2 separate regions of the Homo sapiens genome follow, and region 2 is linked to region 1. Evidence: fine-mapped expression QTL. A gene starts in region 1. The other region holds a variant in brackets. All regions are shown on one strand. Distances are from middle to middle.

Region 1 (16,242 bases):
GAAGAAAATGCGCTCCATCTTGTTTCACCCACCGTGATTTGGGGTTCTGTCTAGGTGGCTGAACGTAATCACAGGGAATGCCAAACACCACTGCCCAGTGTGCAATGATTACACAGCAGCTCCCACAGTACAGCCCATGTCAGCACCCTCTGTGATGTACCAGGGTTCACCGTGGCTGCCTGGTCCCCAGGCCGCTGTTTCAGAAGAGTGGCTGACTACGTCAACCCTGCACGTCCAAGAGGCGGCTCTCATGGCCCAGGAAATCCACAACAGGTGTCTTTGGTCTCTCAATATTCCCTGGCTTGTCCAGCTCTCACTCACTATTGCCCCCACCCTGTGAACTGAAGTGGAGTATTATTCCCATCGTATCAGTTGCAGAAAAGTCAATGGCGTAGCATGGCGCAACATCTGTCCCCTCCCCTGTTGGTGTCTGGGAAGCCGCAGTCTGTGCTCACCAGGTAAGAGCTCCTGGCCCAAGCCTTTCGAGCATGGCCCTTCCAGGCTGCTTGTCACACTGAGATGTGAACAGAAACAGAGCTGGGTAGGCAGGCATCTCCAGGGACACCTGGCAGAGGGACGGTGCAGCTGCCATCTGGCCGGGTTTGCAGGACGCTCTTCCCATGCAGCGTCTCACATGTGCCTCGCTGGAGTCCTTGGAGGTGGGGATCATTGCCACAGCTTTGCAGATAAAAAGGAGGCAACCTGCCATGGTCACACGGGTGCTCCGCCCATCAGACGTGAATTCATGTCTGTCTGAGCCTAAGCCTCTGAGCATTCTCTGGAGCGCCATGCTGTGTGGACAGGCTGTGACCATGAGCCACTAGAGCCCGGCCTGGGTGTGCCGTAAACCCAGCCCGGCCTTCCATTTCCAGGCCCTCTGAGGGATGTGCCTTTGGCCTCTGAGGCCCTGAGCTCCACGTGGGGAGAGCTCAGCCCCAGGCTGGCACCTGCCATGCCTCCTACGGAAGCAGCCACGGCCCCGAAAGACAAGACACCCTGCACAGAAGGCAGGTCCACAGGCCCTGAGTGCTGGCAACATACGTGAAGGAAAAAGAAACGAAATGCTGGCCAGAAAATTCATGCTCTTGGGCCAACCTCTACTGGAAAAGGCCAGGCGACATTTCTAGACCTTTTGTGTCCCAAAAATTAAGCAGTGGGCTCACACAGCTTTAAGCCAGCAAGCTCAGTGATAGCCTAGCTTTCATTGAAACACATAAGCTGGTCCATCATTCATAATAACCTAACGATGAGTCTTTCCTCATGTTTACGGCTTCAGAAAGAGAAGGTAGCAAGTGACAGGTCTTGGTAATGTCTCCAGTCATGTTTCTTTCATTGTGCCCCGAAAGCAAGGCTGTCCCCGTGGAGGGTGCAGAGTCAGTGGGGAAAAGGGGAAGAGCTCCTTCAGCTGATGACAGACGTGAATGGGAGAACGTAGAGGCTGTTTTCTCATTCCAAAGGAAAAGGAAAAAGAAGAATCAGAAAGGTCCCCTGTCCCCTCCTTCCCTCCAGGCTGGACTGTGTCCCGAAAGGAGGCTGGCCACGGCCCCGTGGCTCGTGGGACTGCCACTGGTTGCCCGGCCGTCCAGGAGGTCTTCATCTGCGGTCTCCCCCTCTGGTGTCTCTAGGTGTTCCAGGACCCTGCAAGCTAAATCCAGTGCTATAAAACAGCTCCTCTGTTTGCAGGGGGCTCTATGCAGAGGCAGCCCCGGCAAATCCCTCCTGCGCCGTGAGGCTCTCCAGGCTGATTTCTCCACCCCTGCTCTGGAGGAGGGAGGCCTCTGAGGCAGGAACAGCCCAGCCCCGGCATTTGCAGAGATGACCACTGGGTCCCGTGTAGGGCCAACCTTCTGCCACCTTCCGGAGTGCCCCCAAATCTGTGTTCTCCAGCCCAGACAACCCCGCATGTCCCATGAAGAAAAGTGCCCCACTGAGGTGCGGGCTGGAAGCCTTTTCAACACTATTCAGCTCCTGCTGAGAAACCTCTCAGGTCCCGCAGAGCGCAATGCAGAGCGGAGCAGGTCCAGGACCAGGGCAGGGCAGAGGGTACAGATGGAGCAGGGCCGCCCAGGATGACGGCTGCAGGTGGAGTTCTGGAAAATTATCAGGATGATGACAGACCAGGGCCGGCGGTCATGGCTGAGGACCAGCCCCCAGACACTGCTGAGGAGAAAGAAACTGTGAAGTCGACCTTATTTTACTCTCAGTCACTAACGTTTCTGGGCCGTTAAAGGCGGATGGCACAGAAACAGGCTGAGTCCCTCCAACCCCACGGAACCTGTCCTGACAGGAGAGACCCCCAAAAGGAGCCAGGACGTCCTCGGCGGACACAGGGGCCAGCGTCCCCATGCCCCTGAAGGTGGAAGCCTGGGGCCTACCAACTGGTCCTGAGGTCCGGGTGAGAGGAGGGCCTGTGGCGCGGGGGCTGGGCAGTCACCCTCACACCTGAGGCAGCAGCTCTGGACAGGGACAAGCCCTAGAAACTCCAGCCTCCAGTGAGCGGGAGCCACTGCTTGAGGGGGCTTGGGAAGAGGGATCCTCTCCTCACTGGCTACGGCGGGAAGAGGGCTTAGTCTTCGTGTGCTCAGCTGTGAGAAGCCTAGAAGTGCTTTGCTGTCGTTTCCTCACTTAATAAAGACAGCAAATCAGCCTCACACTGCAGCCTCCTGGATTCTTCCCATTTCTCATTTCCTCACTTAATAAAGACAGCAAATCAGCCTCACACTGCAGCCTCCTGGATTCTTTCCATTTCAACAACCTTATTAACTGGTTAATTCCCAGGTTAAGCCAAGTAACCCGGCAGGTGACTGGGAAAGCTGAAGGTTCCATGCCTGCTCCAATTAATGTCTTCTTAGGACAGACTGGAGAGTTCAGATTCACTCTCTAAAATGACTCAGAGAAAGAAAATTCACTGACTTATGAAAAGGTCAGTCTCCATCACTGACAGCTTCATATCACAAAGAAAGGCATTTTCAGAGCAGAGACACTTGATCACTGGGAATTACTGACTCCCAAGCCCAGAAAATGCCACTGGATACCCGGCAAAAGACCTCCATTAGAGCAGAGGGAATCAGACGGCACTGGTGGGATTAGCAGTTCCAATGGCTCCCAGAGCTCAGAGCTCCCAGCCAGGGCAGCCACACGTGAGGGACTTCTCACCAAATGCAAGTGAGCTTTGAGCTAATGCTTCAGAAACAAACTGGTTTTACAAGCAGGCTTTAGGTTAATGGTACACTTTTTTAAATGAAATAAAAAATGAAACTACTTTTTATTGGCTTATATAAGGGATCTGGAGTCATCAGCCTCTTGCATTGGTTTTATGCATGCAAACATAAAATGGCATTGTTATCTCAGGGTCAAGCTTATATTGGTAATTCTGGGTCAATCCCTCTGGCTTTTCTATAAGTATTTGAAAATACTGATATGATCCTTACAGGACTTCTCAAATCTCCTGGGGGCAGCATCCTTGGCCAGGATGTGCTCAGGGAAGACCACAGGTGCATCTGTCCAATAAATCAATGACTTCCCCCAATTAGCATAAGAGTTAAATATAATCAAACTATGCAAACTAGGTGTACCATGAGGTAAGTAAACCTCCTTAGAAACCAACTGAACACGCTGATCAATATCTGAAATTGTGGTATCTGTATAATTGCAGTAATACTGCGATAATCAATATCTGCATAATTGCAATACAAAAACTACAAGAATTTGATGTAATAAATGAAGATTTTACCTAGTAGGTTAACAAAAAAGAGCATGTGCTGGTAATTTATGTGCTGGTAAACATTTCACAGCTGGATCTCAGGAACAAAAATGCATGCATGCATATACATGGATAAGTGTATTATAAATTTCAGTGAAATAAAGCATCTGCAGTGTACAGTTTACAAATATAGTATACAGTACTCATTTTTGTAAATTGTATATGACCAATTGATTCTCGCAGAAAACATCGGCTCATTTCTGGAAAACTCGTTTCTGCAGGGAGACTGTAGCTGTATTTGACCAGGGAGGGTAGGCCCGACACAGATGCTAGTGAATGTTCTTATTTGCATTAATGAGTAAGACAAAACCAAAACGACAAAGCAGTCAGTGTGATCTCGTTTGTCAGTGACTTCTCTGCTGAACTGAGTAATTGTTTTTAAATGCCAGAAGAGTTCTTCAATTTTTTTGCTGTTCACAGTGCAATGGCTTCAACACTTTTAAGTCTAATCTGCATTATTAACACCTTCTCCATCAGTCTGAGTTAAAGGCCAGCTCTGGTTTGTAGCACTTGCTGGCGTCTGCAGCGTCAATGCATCCACCGTGAGCCACTCCAAGCTTCCACCTCGGCAGGGCTGAACAGGAGCACGCGGCGTGGGACGCCTAAGACAGGAGACGTCTCCTGCGGACCGTCCAGGCTGCTCTCGGGGAGGCTGGCCTGTGGACTTCATCCATGGGCTTCCATGGCCTCTGGCTTCCAGTCCTGTTTTGCCATTGGCGACCCCTGGCAGGGACTGGCAGGAGGCAGGAGGATGAGGTCTAGGTCTTATTCTCCTATGGGGTCATCTTAGTCTCTGTCTGGCCCTCGGTGAAGGTCATGGCATCTTTCAAGGTGACTCTGTGCAACCTGACTTCCAGAATCCATTAACTGCTCCTCCCCTCCTGCCTTCAGACCAGGGTGAGAATAGCTCTGCTATTATTAGGTCCAGAACACTGCACTTTTTTGGTAGTTTTCCAGCCCTCTGCCTATGTCTCTGCAAACAGTCCCCTTACCAAGCCCTCTGGGGATGACGCTAGTGTGCCCTGCGTTCCCGCTGGGACATTGACACAGACAGAACCCATACAACAGCAGAACTCCCCAGAGGACAGCCTCACCACGTGCACAGTGAACGGCCTGTGTGGGTGCTCCAAGACGACAGCCTCACAGCGTGCACAGTGAACGGCCTGTGTGGGTGCTCCAAGACATCAGAGGGGTCCCAGAGTTCTCCAGAAAAAATAACTATTCCACGTAGCTGCTAGCGTGAGACGCTGGGCCAACCCGAGCATGTGGGGAAGGCACCTTATGCTCTGCCATCACCCACAATGTGATGGTCTTGGGGGTGGGGCTTTCCGAGGTGAGTAAGTCATGAGGACCCGTTGTCGTGGAAGGCTTGAGTGCCCTTATAAACGAGGCCTGAGCTGGAAGGCGCTGTGAGGAACAGGCCCTCCCCAGATGGCAACTTGGTCTTGGACTTCCCAGTCCCCATAAATGTGAGAGATGATTGTCTGTTATTTTAAGCTTCCCAGTCAGTTACAGCAGCCAAACTTCTATCAAAAATAATAAAAGAACAGCAATTAGAAGTTTAAGAAATAAAAGGTCTTAGTTTAAATATAAAGAAACTTAAATGTGGCAGGAATTTAAAGAAATAATGGAGGACAAGGAGAAAGCGCATCTGACCTTAAGGCTGGGAACGATTCCTTTGAGTGACTCAGGGGTTGTGGTCCTGGGCCTCAGGGAGGGACATATTCGCCCAGCAGACGGCTCAGCCCTGGTGCACACCCTTCATACAGATGTGCACCAGGGGAAATTCAGTTACGGTTAAAGGGCTAAATGCATACTTCATCAGCTCATCAGCTATAAAAGCAATCCTCTAATAGGATCCGGGAGATGAAAGAGGGAGTGGGGAGGGAAGGGTGGGGCTGGAACCTCCTGGCATTACAGGGTAGGGACCACCGGACACTGTCAGAAATGACGCGACAAGAAATAGCCTTGAGTACTTTCAATTAAAGCAACAAAGGCAACCACAGACAAGCCAGGCCTACTCCCACCACTGCCACTGCTGGCCGCGAGGGAGGAGGCCAGCAGAGCCCAAGTCCCTGGCGCGTCAGTGCCGCTGTGCTGCTGGTCCCCGCTCACCTCTGCCTCGTTTTCGGGCTCTCTGTGTGTCCTGACACCTGTGCCTCTCACTTGGTGGTCTTTCCTCCGTCCCTTCTTGTTTGCCCGGCCCCTCTTACAGTGTAGCACTCTAAAGCAGCTTTTCTTTATGGAAATCTGTTTATTCCAAAGCTCTGAGGCAGTGTTATAAATATTGGTTTAAAACATTAGCCAGGGGATTACTGATAAAATATAAAATAGAAACAATTTCCCAAGGAAACTTCATCTAAAAATACACCAGTTTCCCCTCTCACCTCACTTGAGTAGAGGCACCAGAGGGTGTGTCAGGACCTGTCTCGGGGTGAAGGTCTCACTTCCTCACGCCTCTCCCACATGGCTCCCAGGAATCCCCCAGGAATGGCTTGGAAAAAAAAAATCTGTGACAATGGAGAAGAGTTGCCCCCAAAGAAACGTGCATATAAACAGCTCTTCCAGCTAGAGAAAAAAAAATTCTGCATAAATAATTCAGATTGCTGAGCTTGGTCCCTCATGCCTGTAATCCCAGCACCTTGGGAGGCTGAGGCAGCAGTTTGAGACCAACCTGGACAACATAGCGAGAGCTGGTCTCTACAAAAAATACAAAAAATTTAGCCAGGCATGGTGGTGCCTGCCTGTGGTCCCAGCTACGCAGGAGGCTGAGCTGGGAGGATCACCTGAGCCTGGGAGGCTGAGTAAGCCAGGATCACACCACTGCACTCCAGTCTTGGCGATGGACTGAGACCCTGTCTCAATGATCAATAATAATAATAATTCAGACAAACCAGGTCGAAAAATGTCCTGAGACGGTGAACTCAGGACCCAGCTACCTGGGGTGGACACTGTGGCTGATGGACCGGAAAGGGTAACACCAAAGGGCTCTAGGAGGTGTCTCATGTCTGGCTGTTGTCACTCCCCTTGGCCGCTGAAAGCCTTTCTGTTCCCCAGAATCGAGTAAGGAGCTCCTGGACAGAAGTGGGGAAGGAGTCTTCCTGCTCAGGGCTATGTTACTTAACTCCGTTTAAGTGACAGAGCATGAACAGGTCATATTAGTGTCACATGCACCCGATTTCATTCTCCATTTGCAACAATGAAGACTGTATAACGACATTGTTAAATACCCCAGAATTATAATTAAATCTTATTAGCCAATAGAATCTGAGTGTGCTAAAATCTCTATTAGCCGGGACTGATGTAGCCACGATGGCCATGCTCGGCGCGGCGGCTCACACCCGTAATCCCAAAGCATTTCGGGAGGCTGAGGTGGGCGGATCACGACGTCAGGAGTTTGAGACTAGCCTGGCCAACATGATGAAACCCCGTCTCTACCAAAAATACAAAAATTAGCTGGGTGTGGTGGCACGCACCAGTAATCCCCGCTATTTGGGAGGCTGAGGCAGGAGAATTGTTTGAACCCAGGAGGCGGAGGTTGCAGTGAGCCGAGATCCTGCCATCGCACTCCAGCCTGGGGGACAAAGCCAGACTCCATCTTGGGTGGGGGTGGGGAGGAAGAGGAGAGAGACCAAGCAGCAATATCATCGATAACAAATTACAATCCAAATTCTAGGCGGTGTTCTGGGACTGGTTCACATCCAGCTTGGTCTGGCCTTGCCACTCCCACAGGGCAGGACACACTGAGGTCTGCCTGGGGGTGCCTGCTCTGGCGGCTGGGCTCCCCGCTTTCTGCAGGCTCAGGTGCCCCCTATTCCTGCAGCCCTTCCTGGACCCAGCCTGTCCTCATCTCAAACTCGGGGCTGCTGGCCTGAGCTTGATCCCTTCACCGTTTCTCACTAATACGTCACTCTCGCCTCTTAAAAGATGACAAAGACTCTCTCCTTTGACCACACTCGAGTCAGGCTCCTCTGAGCCCTCCCTGTGACCAGTCCCTGACCTTGGCCGGTTTCGGCCGATTTAGCAAGAATCCTGCTGAGTCGGTTTAGTGAAAATCGTCTACTCTTGGTCCCTGATCAAAGTCCTCAACTCCCACCCTCGGTCTGTGACCACACTGCCTGCCTTTTCAGCAAAAATCCTGTCTATGCAGCTAGAACCCGCCTTGCCCCTGACCCTTCCTCTTAGTAATTTTCTCTCCACTCCCGACCCTACGCCTGGGCTGTCAATTCCCACTTTTTCTATCTGGAGTTGAGCCGGATCTGCCTCCCCTAACCCAACATCTCGCTTTAGCAGCCCCCCCACCTTGAATAAAAGCAGCCTTGCCCTCTTTAACAATTAATAAGCACAGACTGGGACAGGACATCCCCCTCCATCCCAGCGCCCATGCACCCTCAGCCACGGTCCTCAGACCTCAAGAAACCCAGCGGGTGACAAGCTTGGGTGTCAGCGGGGCTGGGATTGCTGCTGGGGGCACAGGAGCTCGGGAGCACTTTGCAGGTGAGCAGGGCCTGGACAGGGGCTTCTCTGCAGCCCACCCCTGGGGAGGACTCCGGGCCCTCGCCCTGGACGGCAGAGCTCGTTTTGCTGTTGCCCTACTGTCTCCGCGACCTTGGGGGTTCACTTAGCACCCCCAGGCCAACACCTGGCCTCTCCATGCACCAACACCTGGCCTCTCCTTCCCTGGCCTGCCGCCCTGCCTGTGTCTGGACTGTGGTTCACCGAGTGTGCACGTGGGCCTCGGAGGCTGCCCTATAGAGCCCAAAGTCCCAGGGAGGAGCAAAGGGGACCAAGTGCACACTCACCCAGCTTCCTCTGCCCGGCAACGTCCCTGCCCCCATCTCCCCTCCACCGCCACCAGGGCCTGCATCCCCATCTGCAAAGGGGACAGGGTGCCCACGCCTTCTGAAGCACGCGCTCTCCAGGCCGCTCTCCGGGCGTCACCCCGCCCTGCTCCCCTCGCCCCTGCACAGCCCGAGTCCAGCCTGGTCGCTGCCATCAGGACGATCAGGACCGACCGCCACCATCAGTGGGGACCGGCCAGGGCGGTTAGGCCCGGTCCGGGGCCCCAGGTCCCGCGTCCCCGCCGAGGCCAGGCAGGGAGGCCTGGCTGCCCCGGGCTTTAGAACCAAAATAAGCCCCGAAATGATTGGCGGCGCCCATGCGCCAGGAGAAAACCTAAAGGACGAACGTTCCCGAGTACATATAAGGACGATTAATATTTATTGCACAACTTTTTTTTTTACTTCCTTGTTAAAGAGGAAAACCTTACGCTAAAAATAAAACGACTAGGAGCCCTTGTGCCTGCGTGGGTGGCGCTCGCGCCTTTAAACCTGAAGCCACAGGGGCTCAGCCCCCCACCCGCGCAGGGCGGCTCCTGCGCATGCGTAAACAGAAGGGGTCGGGGCGCGGCCCAAGACGACGCCAAGGGAGCGGACGGGCGGGGAGGAGGTGGCCTCTGCGCAGGCGCAGAGAGGAGCGAGCGACTCCTGCGCAAGCGCAGAGTGAAGGGCCGGGAACAGTGGAGGGTGCGAGGAAGACAATGGGGGAGGACCCTGAGGCGGCCTCTGTGAGCCGACAGGAACACGTGGTCGATCAGAGAGAGACTCGTAAGTGCACGGAGCTGATGAGGTGACTATGGCGTTGCGCAGGCGTCCTGTAGAGGCGGGTTGTCATCGGCGCAGGCGCGGTGTGGAGGAAGCCCCGGCGCCGGCGCAATGAGGAGGCGGCCGGACTCGGCGCTGGCGCAGTGTGGAGGAGGCTCCGGCGCAGGCGCAGACGCAGGGCGGGCAATGGCCGCCTGGGTCTCTCGGGCAGCCCTGCCCACCTCTCTCGCGTCTCCTGGTCTTGGCCTGCGGCTCTCTTTCTGGCAGGTGCCGCGGCGTCTCCTGCGGGCCTGACCGTGTTCTCCCGCCTAGCCAGGCTCTTCTGCGCTCCTTTTTTGTTGAGATTTTTCCATCCCCTGCACAGGAAGTGTCCTTTAATTACTCCAGTGTTTTTTTAGTTACTTTTTAAGAAACATTTTGGACTTTTCGATACAGAATAGTGTCAAAAAAAAAATTTAACCTTCTTCAGGTTATATTTTAGTGAATGATATTAATATATGTTCCAAAGTTGTATGGGATTTCTAAAATTCTAATTTTTCTGAGTATATGCTACCGATCATAATTATGGTTATGTTGTTGTTATAACCAAATTTCTTTGTCAATTGTGTCTTTTTGAGTATTTAAAGTCATTTCCGCAGTTAATTGCTTCATGCTGATGTAGTTTCTGAAAACTTCACAAGCACACAAAAATCCTAGAACATGGTGTCTTTTAGGAGGTTCGTGAACGGATGGGGAGGACCCTGAAAAGCACTGTGGAATACAGGTTTCTAGTAACTTCAAAATCACATCATTTGGACTGGGTAAGAATTGCTGAAACTTTAATGAAAAGACTGACTGGCTTATAAAACTGCTAACCCAAATAGAATAAAAATTAATTGAATACCGAGGAAATGCTTCACCAGGTTTGCATACTTAATCAGCCTATACTGAAATTGTTTAGATATACAATTTGAATGAACTCCATGGTCTAAGTCAAATTACCTGTGATAACCCATCAGTTATCCATGCTATGTGCCCAATTTGGAGAAACAACTGGCACCCAAGAGGACATAAGTCCGATGTTAAGCATGGACTCATGGAGAACCAAGATGGCTGCCTTGTCCTTCGTGAGTCCTTAAAGCTTTTGTTATTAAAAGTTATGCATTCCATGACTCATCCTGGAAAAGATAAAATGATCCAAATTAAATATGTTGGTGTGGTGACTTACAGATTGTTAAAATAGTTTATAAACAATGTTTAGTTTGTCAAACCCATACTCCTGGGAAGTCAATCAAAGCTTCATGTACATTTGGCTACCTGATGAGGCATTTAAACATTTATAAAGGGGTTTCATTCAGTTGTCATTTTCAATGTATGTGTTCTGGTTGTACTAAAGCTTTCCCATGCAGGAGGGCTAATGTTATAACAGTAGATTACTATGTATCAGTGTATTTTCACCAGGTAAAGAGCTTTTTATGGTTCACTGAGGACAATCAACCCCTTCACAATCTAGAACCCAAAGATGGGATCTTCTGAGAACATCAGAGAAACGCTGCCCTTGGCATCATCACTGCAACAAAACATCAGGATCTTGAACCTTGGGGTCATAATCTCACAACTGAGCAGGGTCACTCTTGGAACTCTACATCCATTGAAACCCTTAAGGTAAAGCTAATCAGGGAAGTTTCTCCCCAGAAGAAGATGGCATCCTTGATGTGAGCAGCTCTTTCTGAAGATCATGGATCAAGACTTCTTACTATCATGAGACTCTTATCTTTGAATGTTTTTCCGTTGCTTCCGCCTCTGTGAACAACAGAAGTGAGAAGGGGGTCTGTTTTGTGCACTTATGGGGTATACTTTTATTTGTGAAGGGCTTTGCAGCCAGCTTTATACATGGATAATCTTATAACTTGATAGATAAAGATGAAGGCCCAGTGTATCATAGGTGAGAAACTTCAATGGTACATATGGTGCCTCATAATCATTCAGAAGCAGAACATTGGTTCACTCCTCTTAACCCACAGCATGGGTTAAAGAGACCATTGCCAAGAGGCCTTCCCTCTTCTAGAAGGGCATCATTTGTTAGGTCCTTTTTCCATGGTTTGGAATTAAAAAGGCAATGACTAGAAACATATCCCTCATGGTAGACTCTGTAGCAGATTCTACTGTAAAGGCTACACAACAGATGTTAAATTCTCTTGTGAAAGTTATGCTAAAAAATAGAATTGGCTAAACAGGAAAGTACCTGTGCAGATGCTGGCACTTAAGGCCTATGGAGAAAACATCAGGTGTTATAGAGAGTCTGTTGTAGGGAATTAACGAAAAGACCACTGAGTTAAGTCAAAGAATGGTCTATTTGAGTTTAGGTGGTCTGGTTTATGGGGACCCTGGCTAAGGAGCATACTCCAAATTCTTGGTGTTAACCCTCTCAGTAGTCATAAGAATAGTCTCCCTGGTGCACTGTATTCTCTCAAAGGTTTTAAATGTTTGCATGAAGCCATCTTTAGAACGTCAGATGGTCTCTCTTCAACTGGAATGACAAGAGCTGAAAGAAATGTGTGACCACGAGGACACCGAAACCGATGAGTGACATGCTGAGACTGGAAATCCAAAATGATAGTAACGGAGAGTGGCGCTAACATCCTAAGTTTTGGTCACACTCTTGCCTAAGTGACAACCTGACAAAGGGGGAATTTTTTAAACAAAATGATGGGAGGCCATTGTTTTGGACTGAGCACTAGGTCCCAACAGACCAAACCGAACCAAAATGGCATCATTCGTGCTAAATGTGACATAATCGAATTAAGACTTTAAGGAAACACATGGGTCCTAGAATAGACCAGGTTTTGTTTTTCTCTTGCAAACAGGACTTTCCAGCATAAGGTGGTATCCTCAACTCAGTCCTTGTTCCTACCTTTGCAAAACTCACTGTTCTGCTTCCTAGTGGGTTTCAAGACCAATGGTGACAGTGACATCAATAACTCAAGTTTCGATCAATCTCTCAAAACTGATAAAATGACCAAAAAGGGGGAATTGTTAAAGCGAACTAAATATGGCCTGAGAAGGACTCCGTACTTCTGTATTGGAGTCCCTGTGAACAAACTGAGCCTAACTTAATAGGTAGACAAGATTGAAAACCTAAATTAGGAGTATGTACCTGTCACAATTGCTGAGTCTCGGCCAGTCCCAGCAGCCGTACTTCAATCACTCATACACTGCTGAATGTTCAAACTGTGTGTAAATAAGGCAAATGCCAACCTGTAACTAATCCAGGTGTTTCTCTACCTCACTTCCCTTTTTTTGTCTATAAATCTTCCACCACGTGGCTGCACTGGAGTCTCTCTGAATCTGCTGTAATTCTGGGGGCTGCCCGATGTGCAAATCATTCATTGCTCAATTAAACTCCTTTAAATTTAATTCAGCTGAAGTTTTCTTTTAACAAGAGTGAGATAAGAATCTGTGTTCTTATCCCCCAGAATGGACAAATCAGTAGCGTTCCTTGTCATTCTTTTGTGGCTGGTTTCACGTAAATATTTTGTGTGTATGATAATAGAATTTGATTTTAATGAATATACTTTAAAAGCAACTTTTTTTTTATTCTTCCTCACCATCGAAGATGGAGAAAAATAAGAAGGGCTGTCTTGCGGTTCCATTTCTTTTGTGGATAGTAAGAAGCGCTGTCTTCTGGTTCCGTTTTTTTTTTCTGGATAGTAAGGATGTTTATCTTACTCTGTCTTCATTGTCCTCAAACCTCAAGTAGTCACTAATACCCTGGCTATGACAGCTTTTATCGTAGTGTTAAATGGCAGATTTATTTACTTGGCAAACATTGTCAAGTCTCAGAAAAATTACCCCATGGTCTTGCCTTCTTCCCTCGTGAATTGCCTTCCACTGATGGAGAGGATTTGATCTGTTCCCTGCTCATCAATTTTTCTAGCTTCTTTGGGATGTCCGCTCTGCATATCTACTAAGGAATTAAGAAATAATGGCTTCAGCAAGAAACAAGGCAGGAAAGTGCAGTGACATGAGGACCATACAGGGAAGGAGCTGTCCCCAAAGGTGAGAATGGCCCTGGACAAGGGTTCTTGCTGTGACTTCACTCAGACCAGACCACCTTGACCTTTTCATCACCGTGCCTCAGCGAAGTCAGTCGTTGATTCTCTGATCGGTTACTGAGATCATCATGAAATCTCCCTCGTACGAGAGTTGCAGAACTCTGCAGTGTCAATCATAGTGTTTGGGAGAGAGGACTTTCTACCTCCATCCTTTTTCTGAACCTAAATGGAATGAAAATTAGAACTGTTGCTTATTCTTTGAGGTAATTTCAAATTCCCTTATCCAAACCAGTGTTACAAAAGGACTCCAGTTTGCCCCCCAAATCGGTCTATTAAGAATGTAATGATGAATTTTCATCCAAATCCCACAATATGAGCTTTTCTAAAATAACTCTAGAAACAAATATGACAATATTCCAAAATTCCTGCCCTCAGACCTTATTTTGTATTAGAGTTATCTGTGTATCCATTTTGTATCCCCTGAAGCACGATGAGCCACTTGAGGCCAGGTACAGCCATGGCGTGTATCCCAGAGCACCTGTGAGAATGTCTCACAGACAGTCCGTCTCTCCTGAATATGAAGGGATGGGCACCAGCCGGAGCCACCATCCGTGTGACTGGCCCGTGGCCGCCTCCAGCTCACACAGAACCTCTGCACGCAACGGAAAAAGGTCTCCCCTGGGTGAATGGGGTGGGAAACGTGTGCCCCTCCAGGCGGCTGGTGAGCAGAGTGCTCCCCTCGGCAGGGTGTGACTTGTACAGCTCCACCACGGGCCCTGTAACAAGACAGGCTTCGACCCTGCCCTCTTGCAGCTCGTATGTATGAGGGGCAGCCCAATAAATAAATAAGCAAATCCATGCTGTCATTTCAGGTATTAGCTAGAGCTTTGGAGGAAAAGCAGGCTGAGGGGAGGGAATGACGGGCAGGAGCAACGCAGGCAGCAGGCCAGGGAGGGGCCGAGTCGGGGCCTGGGTAACAGGCAGTGCCATGTATAAAACGTTAAAAAGTGTGAAAACCAGTTTTACATACTGGGTAGTTAATATTTCCATCTTCCCCCCATTTTGGTTTCAGTTCATTCTAGGTTTCTTTTCATTTCCTGTATTTCTTCGACACTATAGTTTTGTGCTGGGTCAGGCCAGCCCAGGGTGAGTCCCACTGATGGCTGCTTTGGGTGAAGATTGAAGCCTCCCCTCCAGGGGCTGCAGCGCCAGTCTCTGTGTGTGGCCTGGTCACAGCACTCAGGCGTCTCCGACCAGCAAGAGTGTCTCGGGGACACTGGTTCTCCCCTCAGGCCTCCGACTTGCAGGGCCTGCCTGGGGGTGGCCAAGGGGATGCTTGTGTGTCCACACACAGTGTGAACACAGCATCTGAGGGCGCCCCAGTTTCCTCTGCAGACTTCAGGAGAAGATTCTCTAAGCAAAGTTCACAAAGAAGCAATAGGACTGAGGCAGGGTAGGGGAAATAGGTTGATACCAAAATACAGGGAGAAGTGCCCTAATGTGTGCTGAGGGTGCTTTGGAAAGATTTCAGGTGACTCAGCCGGGGTCAGGCATCTTGTGAAGACAGGAGAACTGCGGGCCTTTCTGCAGCGTGGACAGCAGGTTCCCTCTCCTGGGCGTTCCCTTGCCTTCGGATTTGGGGGGTTTCCCCTGGCAGGGCTGGGACCCCCTGCAGACAACGGGGACCTTCCAAAGTCTGGGAAAAGAAACCAGACCAGGTACTGGGACGCAGGTCACCAGGAGCCGGCAGCGTGGGGCCCAATAGTGAGGCCCTTCCTGGGCCTGTGGCCTCCTCAGTACTGTGAGGCTGCCAGGCTGAGAGTTTCTTTCCAATCTGAAGTCCTCCACTAGACAACTGAGGAGAACCTGCATCTGTGCGGGTCTCCTGGTCTCCTTGGGTGTGATGAGGGCAGAGACCCCCCTACAGGCCACAGAGGAGTCCACTAAGGCTCACCCAGGCCTGCTGCTCCAAGGACCCACCCAGTCCCTAGGATTTGTGCTTGAAGCCGCCACTGCCCTCACGTGCGTCCTGCCCACGCTATGCTCACACGTGTCACACGCCTGGCCTTCCACGCACGAGTGCTCCCACATGCTGAGAATTAGCCTGTTCTGTGAAGGGCCACCCGTTCTCGTCCGTCCTCCTGCGGTCGGACACTTGATGTAATCAGGGTTTGGAGACGTTATCAATAAGGCTGATAGACATTCTTTTACAGACACGATTTTTATTTCTCTTGGGTAAACACCCGGGAGTGTGGTCGCTGGGCAGTCGGGAGAGTGGCTGTTCCGTTTTGCACTCCCAGCAGTAGGGAACGAGAGTTCTAGTCACTGTGCGTCCTTCCCAACGTGCAGTTGCCAGCCTGTCTCTTTCTAAAGGCATATTGCTAGTGGGTATGAAATATACCGAATTTCTTTTTATTTTAAGCTCAATTCCTTTACGTGTTTTCTTCCTAGTCCCCAGAGTGGCTTCTGTCCCCGAACATAGGTATGAATGGTGCTGAGCACTGGACCACAGGGTGAGCTCCGGTGGGAGGGTTTTGGCAGGCCATGGAGATGAGTACTTGAATTAGGCCCAGATTGCAGAGTCAGGAATTGCTGGGTACAGCCTGTCTGCATTTTGTTTTGGCTTCAAACTTTACAACATTCATTTTAAGTTCTGAGGCCTTAGGTCCTAAGAAAATGTATTATCTGGAACAAATGCAATTGCCAAAGTCTACAATGACTTTGCTTTGTGCCAGACCTCCTGGAATATGCCCATTCCTGGTTCACAGATGTCTGTCAGGCCTGCCCAGGGACCAGGTCCCATGCTGTGGACTCTGACCCCATGCACGGAGCAGTGGAGGCT
Region 2 (16,242 bases), 23 kb after region 1:
TTCACCAGTTACAAGGGTAGGGGTCTCCAAGACCACCCTCAGTTTTGATAATTCGCTAGAAAAACTCACTGAAAGCTGATATACTCATGGTCATGACTTAGCACAAGGGTAGGACACAGATGACTATCAACCCAGGGAAAGGCGCTCAGGCCGGAGTCCAGGAAGTTCCCACCTGCAGAGGGTCCTTCCCCACAGAGCTGTGGGCAGTGTCACTTGGGGCATCCAGGTGGGATCCCCCGAGCTTAGTGTCCCAGAGCCTTTGCTGGGGCCCCATGGTTGACTGCCCATGCGGATGGAGGTCTCCAGCTCACTCGAGGGTGAGCTCATCGCAACCCCTACCTGAATCACACTTTAGGCCTCCTGGTGTGGTCCAAAGGCCCAGGCAAACCAAGACCGTCCCATGTGGCTTAGAGACCACCTCTCAGAAGCTGGGGGAAGAGGCCAGGTCTCTCTGGGCAAGGTTCAATTCTTTATTACACCGTCATATATAAAGGATTTATTTTTCTTTCCAAAAGTTGGATTGCACTACACGCTTTGCTTTGCAATCTGCTCTCAGGCTCGTGGCATGACCGTGTGCCACACGCCGCTTTGTTCACTGAGGCGGACTCAGAATTCCTGTCATCGTCCTCTGCTGCTCACCTGGCCGTCCTCGGCACCTGGGTGGGAATGGAATTTGAACACTGGCGTGATTGTGGGTTGGTATCTCAGTCTGGGGTTCTAGAAGCAAACCCAAGACGAGGATTTGTGTGGAAGCAGTATAAATAAATGATGTGTTCCCTGGAAGACCCCTTTGTGGGAATGGGGGGTGGTACTGGGTGGGGAGGAGGCCGCACGCTGTGGGGGTCACTCCGGCTCCATCTCATGGAGGAACTGGGAGGCTGCTTGTCACTGCTCACAGGTGTGCCCTTTGGTTTGGGGGGTGCTCAGGTGCTCTATGTCTTATCTGTCATTCACTGTCTGAGGGTTATAAATTCCCAGACAGCGTAGCCCTCCAGGAGCTCAGCGAACCCCAGGGAAGAGGTTCCTGTGGCCAGAGGGCAGCCCCTGCAAGATTCAGAAGCCGGATGCTGGGACTGAGAGACCTGGGGCTCGGGGGCCTGCAAGATTCAGAAGCCGGATGCTGGGACTGAGAGACCTGGGGCTCGGGGGCATAAAAATGGTCAGTGGATACAGAGAAATGTGGGCAGAGTCCTCACGGCATCTGCTACGAATAAAGTCTGAAGGCGCCACAGCACTCAGAAGGGCCGGGTGTGATTCTCTCCTGGGTAAGTGTGTGCTCTCGGTGGGGTCAGCTGACGGAGACTGGGACAGAAGCTTAGTGGCCGCTCACCACTGTTTCGTCCCAGCCGCGTTCACCTGGGTGTCAGCTCCAGCAACCTGGGCAAGGATGGGGGAAGAGCATTCTGTCCCGTGGGTGCCGCATATGCTCAGGCCATCAGCTCTACCCCAGTGGGTGCAGGCTCCCTCCTCTGCACTGAGCACCTCGCCCCGTCGTCCTGAGCCCTCCATCGTCTCCACTTTGGGCAAAGGCCAGGGGCTGCTTGGCAGGGTCTTGAGCAATGGAAAGGGACCAGCAGGCTGATCGCTTTCCCTCCTCCCTACCTTAGAACAACTCAAGGTGCAGGGGCCCCGACGGCCTCCCTGAGACACCCTCATGAGCCATCATCGGCTGTTTTCTTTGTGATCTGTGGTAGCTCAAAATAAATACATAAATAAATAACACATAAACAGAGCATCACTCTGAATTTGTCCCGTTTCTTCCCTATCTCCGTGCCTAACCCCACTCCTGCTTCCCTGGGCTTGCGGACCACCCCCCACCCCCACCCCCACCCTCACCCCCACCCCTAACCCCCGACCCCCACCCTCACCCCCACCCCTAACCCCCGACCCCCACCCTCACCCCCACCCCTAACCCCCGACCCCCACCCGTTGTGCAGATCTGGCTTCTGGACTTCCTTCTGCTGTCCAGCCCACCACTGCCCAGCTCCTCAAGAAAAAGGGCTCCAGGTCTGAATCCTTCCCTCGGGGGCGGGATGTGTGGCTGGACCTGAGGTCAGAAGCGCGGCTGAGGCTGCAGACGTGTGCACAGAGTAAATGTGTTGAAATACTTTACTGCACGTGTTCCCTTTATACTCTCTTTTCACACTGATTTCAGGCCTGCAGTCTTTGTGCATCTTTGCTTACAGGATTTTGCCGTATTGTAAATCAGAATGACCCTGAAGTTTAAGCTAAGCCAGACTCTTATGGAAGAAAAAGCTAGGTGTCAGAGGTGGTGGGGGTGGGGGATGCGGGGAGAGGGCTTTTGGGAAGCGCTGGTCTAAAAATCTTTCCAGACACAACCATTTCTTACCTCCACCATCACCACTCTGATGGAGCCACTGTCACCTGTGACTTCTGTACCTGTTTTGTATGGCTGCCATGCCCCTCCCACCCACCTCCAGTCTACAGACAGAAAGGCACGTGGATAGATAGACAGAAGGATAGATAGATAGACAGAGACACATAGATAGATGATAGATAGATAGATAGATAGATAGATAGATAGATAGATAGATATGATAGATGATAGAGACAGATAGATGATAGATAGATGGATGATAGATGATAGAGGATAGGTGATAGATGATAGATAGATAGATGATAGATAGCGACAGATAGATAGATGATAGAGACAGATAGAGACAGATAGATGATAGATAGATAGAGACAGATAGATAGATGATAGATAGATAGATGATAGATGATAGAGACAGAGACAGATAGATGATAGATGATAGGTAGATAGGTTAGATAGATAGATAGGTGATAGATGATAGGTAGATAGGTAGATAGATAGATGATAGATGATAGATGATAGATAGATGATAGATGGATAGATAGACAGAAAGATGATGATATAGCTCTCCTTCTCCCGCTTTCTGTTCTGAGGTAGCAGGCCACACTCAGGAATGCTGGAATGTGGGTGTTTGGTGAAAGTGCTCTGTGAATGAACAATATACATGAGCTGTATCTATATCCAGTCTAGTCTCAACACAGCAGCCAGAGGTTTCTTCCAAAAATACATGTCAGCTCAGACCCCTCTCAGCTCCCGTCTCTCCAGCAGGTCCCCATCCAGCTAGGTCAGGAAAAGCCACCTTCACGATGGCTATGGAGGCCCCCAAGGATGTCCCGCACTCACCCCCAGAAGCTTGAGTGTGATGAGAGGCCGCCCTGAGGCACATTGTTCTCTGGACAGTTGGCCTTAAACGAGGGAGGTTATCCTGGTTTCTGGGGGAGCCCTGACAGCAGAGAGCGTCCTCTGGATGCAGGCGGAAGAGGGTGGCAGAGAGGACTCGGCGTGAGGAGGACTCAGGGTGCCCTTGCTGGCTTTGAGAAGGCGGATGCAGCCAGCCTTGAGCTGACAGCCCACAGGGGAGTGGGGCCTCTGTCCCTCAGCCACAGGGAGAAGTCCTCTAGCCCCCAGTGAGCCTGAAGCATGTTCTTTCCTCGAGCCCCAGACAAGAGCACGGCCCACTGGCACCTTGACTTTGGCCTATGAGAGCAGAGTACCCCGCTGAGCCAACCCTCTCCGACTGTGATAATACATGGGTGTTGTTCAAGCTGCCACATTGTCCGGGGGCTGTAAGAAATGAATACTGTGGTCTGCAAGTCCCCCTGACAGTCTCCCACCCTCCTCCCTGGTCCCTCAGACACCCTTGTTCCTCCCGTCAGAACCACAGGCCTCATACTCCCTCTGCCAGAGGCCCTTCCCCAAAACAGAGGAGCGAGTGGAGCAGACAGCTGCCGGCTGGGTGTGTTCCAAGCCTCGGCGGATGCTTCAGAATAGAAGCGCCCACGCCGCTTTGCAAAGTGTAAGTGACCGCGTGGCTCACAAACAAGCCTGTTTTCTGTGAGTCCTGGCCCTTCCTGGAAATGGTGGGGAGGGTGGCTTGGTGAGCTGCCCACATGGTGTGTGCAGGAGGTGAGCTGATCACTGGGCCACAGGTGGCTGACGGGGGGCAGCCATTGAGTGGGACAGGAGTAGGTGACCAGCAACTGCAATAGTCAGGAGTGTTTGGCGAGGGCCTTCCTTTGGCTGAGAAAGGAGGCAGATGCTGAGTGTTCAGCAGTTTGGGAGCAAGGAGAGTCCCTTCTCCTCCTCCCCTCCCCTCCCTTTCCCTCCTGGGCCATGCAGTAGGACTGTGAACAGCATAGGAAATGCACACAGAGGAGCTCAGGACGCCCAGGAGGACCTCGAGGAGTACCCAAGCAGAGGAAGCTTGCACCCTGAGTCTGCAGTCGGCTGGGGTGGGGCCCCTGCACTGGAAGGAAGGCTGGGCCCCCGACCCAGTGGTGGCTTCAGGGCCTGGTGAGGGTCACTTTCAGGCTGCTTAGACCTGCAGCCTCCCCAGGTGGTGTGCTCAGGCAGTGCCTCTGGGCCGGCACAAACGGGAAGGTGCTGAGGCCGCGTCTACCTGTGGCTTTAAACACTGGCTTCCACCTGCTGGCCTCCGCGTCCCTCCAGCCGGCCGCCTGGAGCTCATTTTGTGAAGCTGGTTGTGTGTGAATTAGGTGATTCCCACTGTGAACAGTGGAACTCTTGCACATTCCTTGTGTAATTTTGTCCTTAGCATTGTGTTCACCTCGTGCGCCAGCTGCAGACCCTCTCAGGACCGCCCCAGAAATGCTGGCAGCTGGTGAGTGAGCATCTTCAGGCAGCTGTGAGCTGTGTGAGATGATTTTACCAATGCCAGCCTCATATCCACGCTCTGAGCATGTCTGAGGTGAGAGGGCTCAGCTATGATGCCCGGAAGATGAGGTGCATTAAATGCATTTTGACCTGGGGTATTTTTTTTCTATTATTATACTTTTAAGTTCTAGGGTACATGTGCACAACGTGCAGGTTTGTTACATATGTATACATGTGCCATGTTGGTGTGCTGCACCCGTTAACTCATCATTTACATTAGGTATATCTCCTAATGCTATCCCTCCCCTCTCCCCACCCCACAACAGGCCCTGGTGTATGATGTTCCCCTTCCTGTGTCCAAGTGTTCTCATTGTTCAGTTCCCACCTATGAGTGAGAACATGCGGTGTTTGGTTTTCTGTCCTTGCGATAGTTTGCTCAGAATGATGGTTTCCAGCTTCATCCATGTCCCTGGGGTATATTAAACTTACGATGGGTTGTCAGGATGTGGCCCCACCAGTCCAGGAGCATCTGGGCTACGATTATTTATTTTGTTCCTAGAATTTCTCCAGCTTGGGCATTGGGAGCTCTTGCAGACCCCGTCGACATTCACTCCCTGAAGCCTCCAAAGCCACCGCCCTTCCCTGACATCTTGTGCAAGGCAGGAGGTGTGCGGCCAGTTTCCACAAGGAACAGGGTCTCCTCCAGGCTGTTGGTCCCTGGAGAAGTAACTTTTGCAACTTTTGTAACTTTTCTGTAAGCCTAAAATTATCTCAAAATACACAGTTAAAAAATGAGTCAAGTGATGTCACCCTGGAATCTGCAGACGAACACTAATGATAGCAGCAACAATAATAACAATGGCCTTTGTTGAGTGTGGCAGGCAGTGTGCTGGCACCTCCTGTGCGTTTTCTCATCAAATCCTCCTTAGGAACCCAGGGTCTTCCCATCAGCATCCTGACCTTGTGCATGAGGCAGCGGAGCCTGGGAGTGCGGCGGGGCAGCCGGGGAAGCGGAGGCGTTCCAGGGACGCCCATCTCCGCCGCTGGCTGGCAGCCTTCGCTCTGTTAGCTCAATGTTTGCCTTAATGCACCCTTTAGAATCGCACTCCATCCTTGGAGCCTTCAGCAGCTGATAAAAAAAGAACCCTTCTGTGTACACATTGGCAACTCTACCACCCTATTCCCAGTGGAGCTCCGGGAGCTGAAAATAACCGCGTGCTTTCTGTTTCGTGCAGAAAAGAGGACGTGTGCACTTTATTTCATAACACTTGCCATTTTTGAAACTCTGATTTTTCCCACATGTATTTTTTAAATGTCCTTGGAGGAAAAGACACACTGCGGATTTTGCCAGCTTCCTCTTTTTTTGTAATCCAGCCCAGGTCTATGGGCAGGTCCAGATCTTCAGGGAAGAACTCCTGGCCACCAGATGTGAAGAACGACGGGAAAGAAAGCCTTGAGCCAACACAGATGGCCATGGGGTGGACTTGCCAAGAAGTGCCAGGAGACAGCTCCCTGGGGGTCCGAGGCCGAGGGCCATAGGAGGAATGCCATCCTCAAGGGCCCCTGTCCCTTGCAACCCAGGCCAGGGAGGAGCAGTGGCCTGCCAGGGTCTCTGCATGGCCTGTTTCCTGTGCAAGGAAAGACCACTGGCTAAGACAATCCAGGGCTCTGTGTCCTGAGACAGGAGCAAGGGTGGTCGTCCAGGGCTCTGTGTCCTGAGACAGGAGCAAGGGTGGTCGTCCAGGGCTCTGTGTCCTGAGACAGGAGCAAGGGTGGTCGTCCAGGGCTCTGTGTCCTGAGACAGGAGCAAGGGTGGTCGTCCATGGCTCTGTGTCCTGAGACAGGAGCAAGGGTGGTCGTCCATGGCTCTGTGTCCTGAGACAGGAGCAAGGGTGGTCGTCCAGGGCTCTGTGTCCTGAGACAGGAGCAAGGGTGGTCGTCCAGGGCTCTGTGTCCTGAGACAGGAGCAAGGGTGGTCGTCCAGGGCTCTGCCTTCCCTGAGCTTTCAGCACTGTCCTCACCCCGGCCAAGCACGGCCAACGGAGGGAGGTGTTTGTGTCAGGCTTCCATCTGCATGATGCTCACTTGCTCCCTTTTAACTGAGTTGAGCCCCACGGAGATGCATTTTGGGGAATTTCCAGTGAGCACAGAGCAGGTGGGTCATGGGAGGGTCAGGGCTGAGCACGGCATCAGAGGACGACCCTGCCCTCCGAGGAACACCCTCCTCCGAGGCCACCGGCAGGTTTTCCGGGTCAGCTCTCTCCCGAGGCTGCCAGGCTGTGCCCTTTCCCATCTTGCTGCACTCACCCTGGACCAAGGATCCCAGATGCTTGGCTGTGAGTGAAATTCCTAGGATTCAGGGCCAGGCTAGAAGGGCAGTGGGAGTGGTGTCTGTGGCTGGAAAAGACCCATGCCTGCCTCCCACAAGGCCACACAGCCAGGAGGTTAGGCAGAGAGGTGGGACGTGCCCTTCGACCCCAGTGAATCTGCGCAGTGCTGGAAATACAGCTTGGACTGCACAAACGTACACAGTTGGTCAGCCCTAGTCCTCCCAAATGGGACTGAGAGGAGACCCTCCCAACACCTGCTGTTACATCGAGGGGAGCCTCTTGCCTTGTGCAGTCACTAGGACTAGGCTGGTCTCATCTCCTTCAGTGATGCACCCAGCGGGTCGCACTGCAATACGACAGGAAGAGGAAATACACGGTAAAAACAATGACAACATAAATGCATAAAGTGAACACATTTCCTCTACAAAGTCAGTAACAAATTAGAAAATGTAATACGGACAAACTTAGTTCTGTTCTCAATACTAACAACCCACACATGAACTTAGCCGGGAACTGTATTAAGAACAGTATTAAAGCAGAGGCTTCATGTGGGGAAAGGTCCCAGGCTTGCTGAGGTTAAGACAATTTACCTGTGT[A/G]GAGACATGTCATCACCCTGGAGACAAAGGCTGATGAGCAAATAGACTAATCCTCCCCTGACTTAAGAACTTATAAAGTCGAAACAAAATTATATTTGGCCCTCTTAAAACATGCTAATGGGATTCAAAAGCTTATCTGGAAAGCAACTGAGCTTGAAGAAGCACGAGCCATTTTAAGAGAAGAATATTAGGAGGGGCATTCCCTGTCAGAAATTAAACCACAGTGTGAAGCTATGATCACTGAAAACATGTGGCACAACTGCAATCATCAATTATATCAGGGAAAACATAAATTACTCTTGAAAGAATTGGAATTTATGAAATAATTGTATGTGTTTGCAGCAGGGGTTAATGGTATCACATATCTCTAGAGAAAGATGTGTTCAACCAGTGATCTGTGATAAAAATAAAATATGTACAATAAATTAGATCTTCTCATATCATCTTAAAATATGACAAACTCCGGAGGTGCCCAGAAAACAACTCCAATGAATGGTCTCCCCCAGCCCCAGATGAAGGCAGTGCCCTTGGGTGGCCCCAGGGAAGAGCTCTCTGCCCAGGGCCACTCTGTGTGGGTCGTGTGAGGGACTCTGGGTCTGGAGCTGTGTCACCAACTACCCTTTGGACCGGCCACTTTCTAAAGGATCAACATCCACAGATTCAGCAGGGCTGGGTGAGGAGACCCAGTCGCCCACCCAGACGGACGACCTGCAGCGGCACACACCCAGGTGCCCACTCCTCTTGGGGGGAGTCCCCATCACTGGATCTTGTCAGCCCTGTGCCACAGAGAGGCTGTGCTGCTATTGTGCGTTTTGGCAGCAGAGGGTGGACACGTCCAGGGAGGGTGGATTAGCTGAGGAGCAGAGCTGGGGCCGGTGTCTCGGCAGTTCACCCACTCCCAGTCTAGAGCAAGAACAGGGTGGACCCTGCGATCCTCGAAACGAGAGTGTTTCCCTTCCTCAGACACATGAGCCAGGCAGTGGAGTTGGGATGTGTCCCTGGATGGTGGCAGGTTAGAGGGGTCCCCAGGCTCCCACAGGAGCCCAGGCTCGGGGAGGAACCCTCTGCCCCTGGCAGAATGGGCACCTGCGTCTTTTATAGTGGGAGCTGGGCCCAGGGAGGGACACACTTCCTTGTCAGATCTAAGACCCAGTTTCTGGGGGGACAAGGGTCTCCAGGCACCCAGGGAAGCTCTCCCAGGCAGAGCCCGGCCCAGAGCTTGCACTCAGGGGTACAGAAGGGATACAGGTAAGGACGTAACTGGATGGAAATTTGTGACTTCAATGCAAAAATTAGAATGTCAGAAAACCTAATAATTAGTAAGCTAAGCATTTGCTGTGAATCAGATAATAACTAGGAAAATTAATATAATGCACAATGAATGGAATGACTACAGGTAGAAGATTGAGAATAGCAGGTGGTGGCAGAGATGTGGATCAACCAAAACTGCTTCTGTTGGTCAGAGTGGATGTGAACTGTGAGGCTGTAGAATGATTTGGGAAAATTGTCTCTTCATATCTGTTAAAGCTAAATGTACGCCTAGCCTATGACTCAACAATTCTGCTCCTAGGTATATACCCAAGAAAAATCCACAAACAAGTTCACCAAAAGGCATGTGCAATACGCAGAGTGACACTATTCATGACAGTCTCCAAACTGGAAACAACCCACATGTCCACCAATGGATAAACCGTGGTCTGGTCACACCATCAAATACAACAATGGGAGTAAATGAGAAGAATGAATGAATCTCACAAACACAATGTTGAGTGAAAGAAATCAGACGCCAAAGAATGCACACCAAGTGATTCCATTAAAAACAGATCATGGAGGCCGGGCGTGGCGGCTCACGCCTGTAATCCCAGCACTTTGGGAGGCCGAGACGGGCGGATCACGAGGTCAGGAGATCAAGACCATCCTGGCTAACACAGTGAAACCCCATCTCTACTAAAAATACAAAAAAATCAGCCGGGCACAGTGGCGGGCGCCTGTAGTCCCAGCTACTCGGGAGGCTGAGGCAGGAGAATGGCGTGAATCTGGGAGGCGGAGCTTGCAGTGAGCCGAGATCGCGCCACTGCACTCCAGCCTGGGCGACAGAGCCAGATTCTGTCTCAAAAAAAAAAAAAAAAAAAAAAAAGATGTTATAATGTCATAATGCCAAAGCTCTGATCTCAGAGGTTATGGTGCCAGAAGCCATGATGCCTCAAGACCTGATGTCAGAAGTCATGATGTCAGAAGTTACGATGTCGTGATGTCAGAAGTTATGATGTAGGAAGTTACAATGTCGTTATGTAGGAAGTTATGATGTCGTGATGTAGGAAGTTACGATGTCATGAGGTCAAGAGCCATGATGCCAGAGCCCTGATGTCAGAATTCATGATGTCATGTTCTCAGAAGTGGGGACAGTGGTTATTCTTTGGGGAATGTTGATGAGAAGAGGCACTTGAGGGACTTCCAGGGGCCTGTAGCTTTTTATTTCTTGATCTGAGTATGGCTTACACCAGTGTTTTCAGTTTATGAAGCTCTACATTTATAATATCTGTGTTTTATAATCCCTGGGTATGCCACACACTTTAATTTAAAAGTATGTTTAGAGAAAAGGGTTGCAGTCCTGGCCCTGCGTGAGGCTCCTCATGTGATCTTTGACAGCCCCCTTCTCCCTCTGGGCCTCAGTTTTCACATCTGCAAAGTGACGATCTGCGTGCAGCTGAAGGAGCACGGAGACTTTACGTCTCGTCCTGATGTCCAGGAGGGTGGAGGCCCTCTTTCCACCGTGTCTCTTTAAGAGGGGTTACCAATGCACTCTGCCAGGAGCCTGGAGGGGAGCAGGGTCTCTTCGAAGCCCACCCCTGGGACAGTGGCCCACACATGCAGGATGCAGACCTCGGTGGATGCCAGCACAGGGTGGAGGGGCCAGGGAGGCAGAGTCAGAGAGGCCACGGGGCCCACCGCCAGCATTAATATTAAAGGCGGTTCTGCACAAATGATCGCATCAGGCCTGGAAAACAGAGCAGCCAGCTTACATGGGAATGTTCTCACCACAGTCAGCCGTGCAGAACTCTCGTCTAATCAGTACTATTGAAACCTTTAATTTCCCTTATTTTGTGCAAGGCGAGAACTGGATATCAGAGGGATTTCTCCCAGAATCACATCCGCTCTTGCCAGTGTCTCCCCTGGGAGGCCTGATGGCCCCGGTGTGTGAGTGGGAACAGCAGCCCTATCCTCAGCGTTTATTTCCCCTGTGGCCAGTGAGAAAGGATCACCAGCAAGCCCGAGCCCAACCGTCTGCAGGCTGACCTTGACTTTGACCTTGGACCTCAAGGGGCAGGCATGGGAAGCTCATATTCCAGGCGTGGGGCTAAGAGCAGAGGCCTGCTGAGCCCCAGAGCTGAGGCCCCTGTCTTTACTGGACCAGCCCGCACTGCCCAGAGGCTCTCTTGGTGCCAACAGTGAGAAGCTGGGTGCCAAAGGCTGCACCATTGCTGCCCTGGGAAAAAGCAGCTCATTTAGCTGAAGGACACCCTGGCCCCTCTTTTCCCACGCTGCTGAGCCCACTCTCTTGCAAGCTGCCTCCTCCGGGCATCACCAGTGATCCCCATCTCCTGAGGCCTCCTCCCAGCCTCGGGGGGGCGGCTGCCCCAAGTCATATTATAAACTAGCATAAAGCCCGTGTAGGACCCGGGAAGCAGGTCCCTGAGCCAGGAGTCCCCATCCCTGCACAGCATGGCCCTGCTGAACCCCAGCTAGCAGGGGCTGTTCCCGCCTGCGCCTGCCCCTTCCCACCGGAGGACACACCTGACAGTGGGAGCTGAGCTGCGGTTTCCTGGCGCCCGCCAGGTGGGGCTCTTCCTGCGTGTGCACCTGTCCTCAGGCCACCAAGGAGTTACCGTCACTGTGTCCATTTCACAGAGGAGGAGACTGAGGCTCAGAGATGGGAAAAGGATCAGGCCAGGAGGTGGGGGAGAAGGATCCTGTGACTTGAGGCCCGGCACTAGAGTCTGCCTGAAATCATCAGCTGTAAGATTTCGCCTCTCATGACAGTAATAATGATAATAATAGTAACTCATTGAAAATAACTTTATGGTCCTTTTCCATGTATAGAAATACAGATGCTCAATGAAAAAAAAAAAATCCAGTCTTCCCAACTCTGCAATGTGCGTTTTCTAGTCTAAAATCTAAGTCTCCATTTATTGCTTCTAAAATGCTCCTCAGGAGAGTTTTGCCGTTTCCTTCAACAACTCTACCTTTCTCACTGAATTCCCCACCATCAGGATTTTATGTGTCTTTCTGCTATTGTGAATGAGATTTTCCCCCTTTATTTTCCTGTTTTCTAAGTGGATATCGGTGACTATTGACTAGTGTTCATTTTGTTATGCTAAGTGCTCCTGTTTCTTACAGCCTTGCAGTTGATCCTCTGTGTTTTCCAGATCAATCTCAAACCATCTGCAAAATATGGGAATTTTGCCTCTTTCCCATCTTTGTAGCTCTTATTTCATGATTTTTTGGTCTTCTGGGGAAAGGAACAGGCTCAGGTAAACAGCCAGGCTGGGGCACCCTCAGGGCAGCTGCGGATCACCCTATGCCGTCCCTCCACCCCGGTACCCACCCCTCCGGGAGTGAAGGCTGCCAGCCGAGATGCACGGTTGCTGGGAAGTGTATGGATGAGGCCCACCCAGGTCTGAGGCATCTCACCCTCCAAGGAGCGGATACTGCCTGCCCCCAGCAGGGGAATGCTGGCTGCTGCCATGGTGGCTGTGGGTGTGTGGTGACCGTCCAGGCCTCCCTGGGTGCTGCTGGGATGGGTGGGCCTGGTTTAGGGTTGATTTCTGGGGTTCCGGGGTCCCCCAGGGGCAGAAGTGTGATGGCACATGGTTCCGTCATGGCTGGCTGCTCTGTGGCTCACGCTGTCTGCCTTTCCTGCCCTGGTGAAGTGGTTGTTTTGTGATGTATTATTTCATTGAATTATATTGGTAGATTTCCTAATACTGAACTTGTTTTAAAGTGCTTGGAAACCTCAACTGAAGCCGAGAGGTGGTCGTTACACGTGTGAGTCTTTAATCTGCCACATGAAGTAATGTGTGAGGACGTTATTACCATAGCTGGTATGTTTCATTTCATGTGTATGTGCAACTTTTCAATGTTTTGGTGCAAATATTATGCTGGAATCCTAAGAAGAACACAGGGTTTTCTTTCTTTATGCTCATGAATAGGAAATTTTAATCATATTGTAAAGATTGGTGCACCAGCATTTTGAATTAGTGAATTTGTGATTTATCTGGGCGTAGAATTTCGGAGGTGAGTGGGCTGGGTTTTAATAGATTTCTCAATTTCTTCTGCGGTTAATAATAGTCTGCTTACTTTTCTGTTTCCTTTTGGTTAGTTGGGGCAATTCATATTTGCCTGGGATAATCACCCATATTATTTAGAATTTAAAGTATTTGCATGGAATCTGTAAATTATGCACTTGTGTGTGCTTCTGTCGTAACTGTTTCCCATGTCGTTAGACTCGTGTGCACGTGTGTGTCCATGCCGTCCTCACAGTTCCTGAATTAGGGTAGACACAGGCTTATTCACTGGTGAATTTCAAAGGCCCACCACACGAGCACGCTTTTGAGTCTCCTGCTTCAAATCACACACTTTTACCATCTTATTTTCTTCTTCTTGGTTCTTACATTTATCCTGTTCTTTTTATTTTCTTGAGTCTAATTTTGTCAGTTGAATGAATAATTTACTTGTTTGTATTTGGTTGTTGCTAACGTAATTGTTATCGCTGTGAATTTTTCTCTGAGACAGTTTTAGTCACATTGTTCGGGTTCTGATAGATCATATTCCATAATTGTTATTTGTGGTGGTTCTGAAATTTGGACTCTGTTGTCCCACTTGACCCAAGAATTGTTCAAGAGGCATTTTGTTTGCTTACTTGTTATTCAGGATGTTAGGGTTTCTGCTTCTACAATTGCTATTATTTTCTTCCTTTTGTGGATTTTGGCTGGAGAATATGGTCTAAGTGTTCTTGGGATTTGACATAAGTTCAAGTTAAAGAAGAGGTTTCACGGCTTCTTGAAGAGAGAGGCATTTCCCACTCCAGGTGTGATGTACCTGTCAGGATCCACTGCTGGGTCTCCCGATGCGTGTTTGGGACCCTGGGTTCACAGAGGGCCGCTGAGGTCCCCACTGCTGCGGGCTGCCTGGTCATCTTCAAATGATGCTGGAATCTCCACTCACGTACTTACCTCCATTCCTAAAATAGTATCGTGTTTTTCCTCTTTATTGTTTGTGCTATTGGGGAGGAGCCTATTATCAGAGGAAATGGATGCACATCGGACACCCTGGTCTGGCTTTATCAGGTTCGCATGCCCTTTCTTATCACCGCCTTTCCCTGCCCTTCCCCTGCCCCTCTCCACCCCTTTCCCTCCCTCCTTCTCCTTTTCTCCTCCCTTTTACTCCGTCCTCTCTCCTTCCCTGCTCCTTCTCCTTCCTTCCTGCATTTCCTCCCCCCTCCTTCCCTCCTGCCTCTCCTTCCCTCCTCCCTGTCTTTTCCGCCCTCTTCCCTCCCTCCGTTTCTCTCCTTCCCTCCTCCCTCCTCCCTTCCTCTCCACCTCCCACTCCCTCCCTACTCCTCCCTCCCTCTTTCCCATCTTCCCTCCTCTGCTCCCCCAGCCCTTAGCTTCAGAGATCTGAGGTCCTGTTCCTTAGCACCTGGGAAAGCTGGCCCCACAGACCCTCAGGTTCTCTCCACTCACCGACTGGTCCCCTTTCCTGCCAGTGCCTCTCTTGGTTCCCACCCTTCTCCATGGGCAGCCAATTTGCTGTGTTTGACATCTTTTAGTTTGTATGTTTTCTTGAAGAATCGGCCTGACTGTTACGGGTACGGGAGTCACCGTGCTCAAGAGGACCCTCTGTGTGGCCGCGTGCTCGTCCAGGGCGGGGCCTGCCCCACTGCGGAGCCCAGCCTTGAAGCTGCCATCTTTCCACGCTCACACCGAGGGCATTCAGGTTGCCTCCCAGTAATGCTTGGTCCAAGGAGTCCCAGACCGAACAGGAAACTTTAATGCTGATTATACCACATTCATCTTTTTAAAACTTGGTTCTCACTTGCCTCTGATTTGTGCTGTTGACATGTTGTTTAAAAAGCCTTGCCTCGCTCCTTGGCCATGGTTATATTCCCTTATATGAGGTTAAATTTGTAGCTTCACCTGTAGGTGACGGCCATGCCTGGTGTGGCTGGCTGTTGAGGTGCAGGGCGCCGCCGTCCAGCAGAGGCCAGTCCAGGAGCAGAGTCCAGAGGCAGCCTGCAGCCCCTGTCCAGAGGCCCTGAGGGGTCCGGGCCAGGGAGGTGGCCTGGCTGCAAGCCCAGCAGAGCAGGCACGTGGGCAGGACCTGGCCGCAGTCTCACGGGGCGGGCCCCTCCTTCTTCCCCGACGCTCCCCGCTCCCTCCCCACACAGGTGTGCGGGGCTGAGCCCCCGGTGAGTGTAGTGTTTCCAGCCTATGTGCCGGAGTCACCTAGGAACAAGCTCCTGAACTTGCAGCAGAATGTAGCTGCGGACGTTTTGAACACACCGGGGAACAAGCTCATGGATTCACAGCGGAATGTCGCTGCGGACGTTTTGAACACACTGTGGAACAAGCTCCTGAATTCACAGCGGAATATAGCTGCGGACATTTTGAACACACCGTGCAATGTTCTCTTTCTTCATTCATCCTTTTGCCAATTTCCTTAACAAATATTGAATTTCCACCATGACTCAGGCACTCCAGAGTGAACCAGGCCAGACCCTGTGCCCAGGTGCCTGTGCCAGAAATAATTGGGCTCTCCTGGGCCTCTAGGTCAGTTTAAAGTTAAGGGTCCGTGCATCATTGCTGTTAGAAAATTCCTGGAAAAAGTATTTGCATGTCTTTGGGGAAGAGAACCAGAGGAAAGGAATGGGTTTTCTCCCTGGACAGTGAGTGCCCTTCCCTGCGAGTGACCAGGACCAATGTGATGTGGCTGGGGCAGTGGGGCTGGAAGAGGAGTGGCAGCTGTGTTTGTCACAGGCCTGGCTGAGGAATTCTCTGTGGCTCTGAGCCCTCGCTCCTGCTCCTCAGGGGCTCCTGGCCCCTCTCCTGCTCAAAGCTTGCTCCCCCAGAGGGTCCAGGCAGCGAGACCTGGGTGTGGGCCGGCCTTCCCTGCCCTGCCAATGATGGCTGGGTGGTGGCAGAACCCCCTAAGGCCCAAGGAGTTCTGCTCAGTGCAAGACTCATCATCTGGCCACACTGCAGGTCCGCAGGGGACAAGGCTCCAGGCACAGGAAGACCCAGCTCCCATGGCCTGGCCCCCGAAGGCTCGACCCCGGGGACAGACTCTGGGAAACTCTCTCAGCTGGAGGCTTTCCGTGCAGCTGGAGTTTAAACAGCCCAAGGCTCCGGGCTGTCATCTCCGCCCAGGATTAGCTGCTGCTGGAGACTTCCTCTCGTGGGCCCCGTGCTGGGGCTGTACAGCTTCCTACCTCACGCCATCTCTGTGGTCACAGGACGCTGAGTGGAGAAAATAAAACCCACGCAGGGACGGCAACCATCGTGGGGATACGTGGGGCTGCGCTCAGGTCTGCAGAGGCCGAGGCTGGACAGGGTGGGCCCTGCTTCCTCGTCAGCAGCGGGAGCCCCGT

What was found. PIP is the estimated chance that this variant, and not a neighbour inherited with it, causes the effect.
Region 2: its variant is fine-mapped to the expression of LINC03015 in cerebellar hemisphere (GTEx, PIP above 0.99).

What each region holds. Positions count from the first base shown.
Region 1 is chr7:142,456-158,697 of GRCh38, reverse strand. LINC03015 (long intergenic non-protein coding RNA 3015) reads left to right here and starts at 9,260. Exons shown (of 3, transcript NR_134325.1): 1 at 9,260-9,369; 2 at 10,080-10,166; 3 at 13,887-14,254. It overlaps LINC03014 (long intergenic non-protein coding RNA 3014), which reads right to left and starts at 8,980. Exons shown (of 2, transcript NR_108065.1): 1 at 8,566-8,980; 2 at 3,233-5,289. RefSeq lists an enhancer at 9,235-9,529.
Region 2 is chr7:119,480-135,721 of GRCh38, reverse strand. No RefSeq gene overlaps it. Among named protein-coding and RNA genes, the nearest start is that of LINC03015, 22 kb to the left of the region's middle. RefSeq lists enhancers at 903-1,405, 1,406-1,908 and a silencer at 15,669-15,887. The variant A/G (reference allele first, on the strand shown) is at 7,596.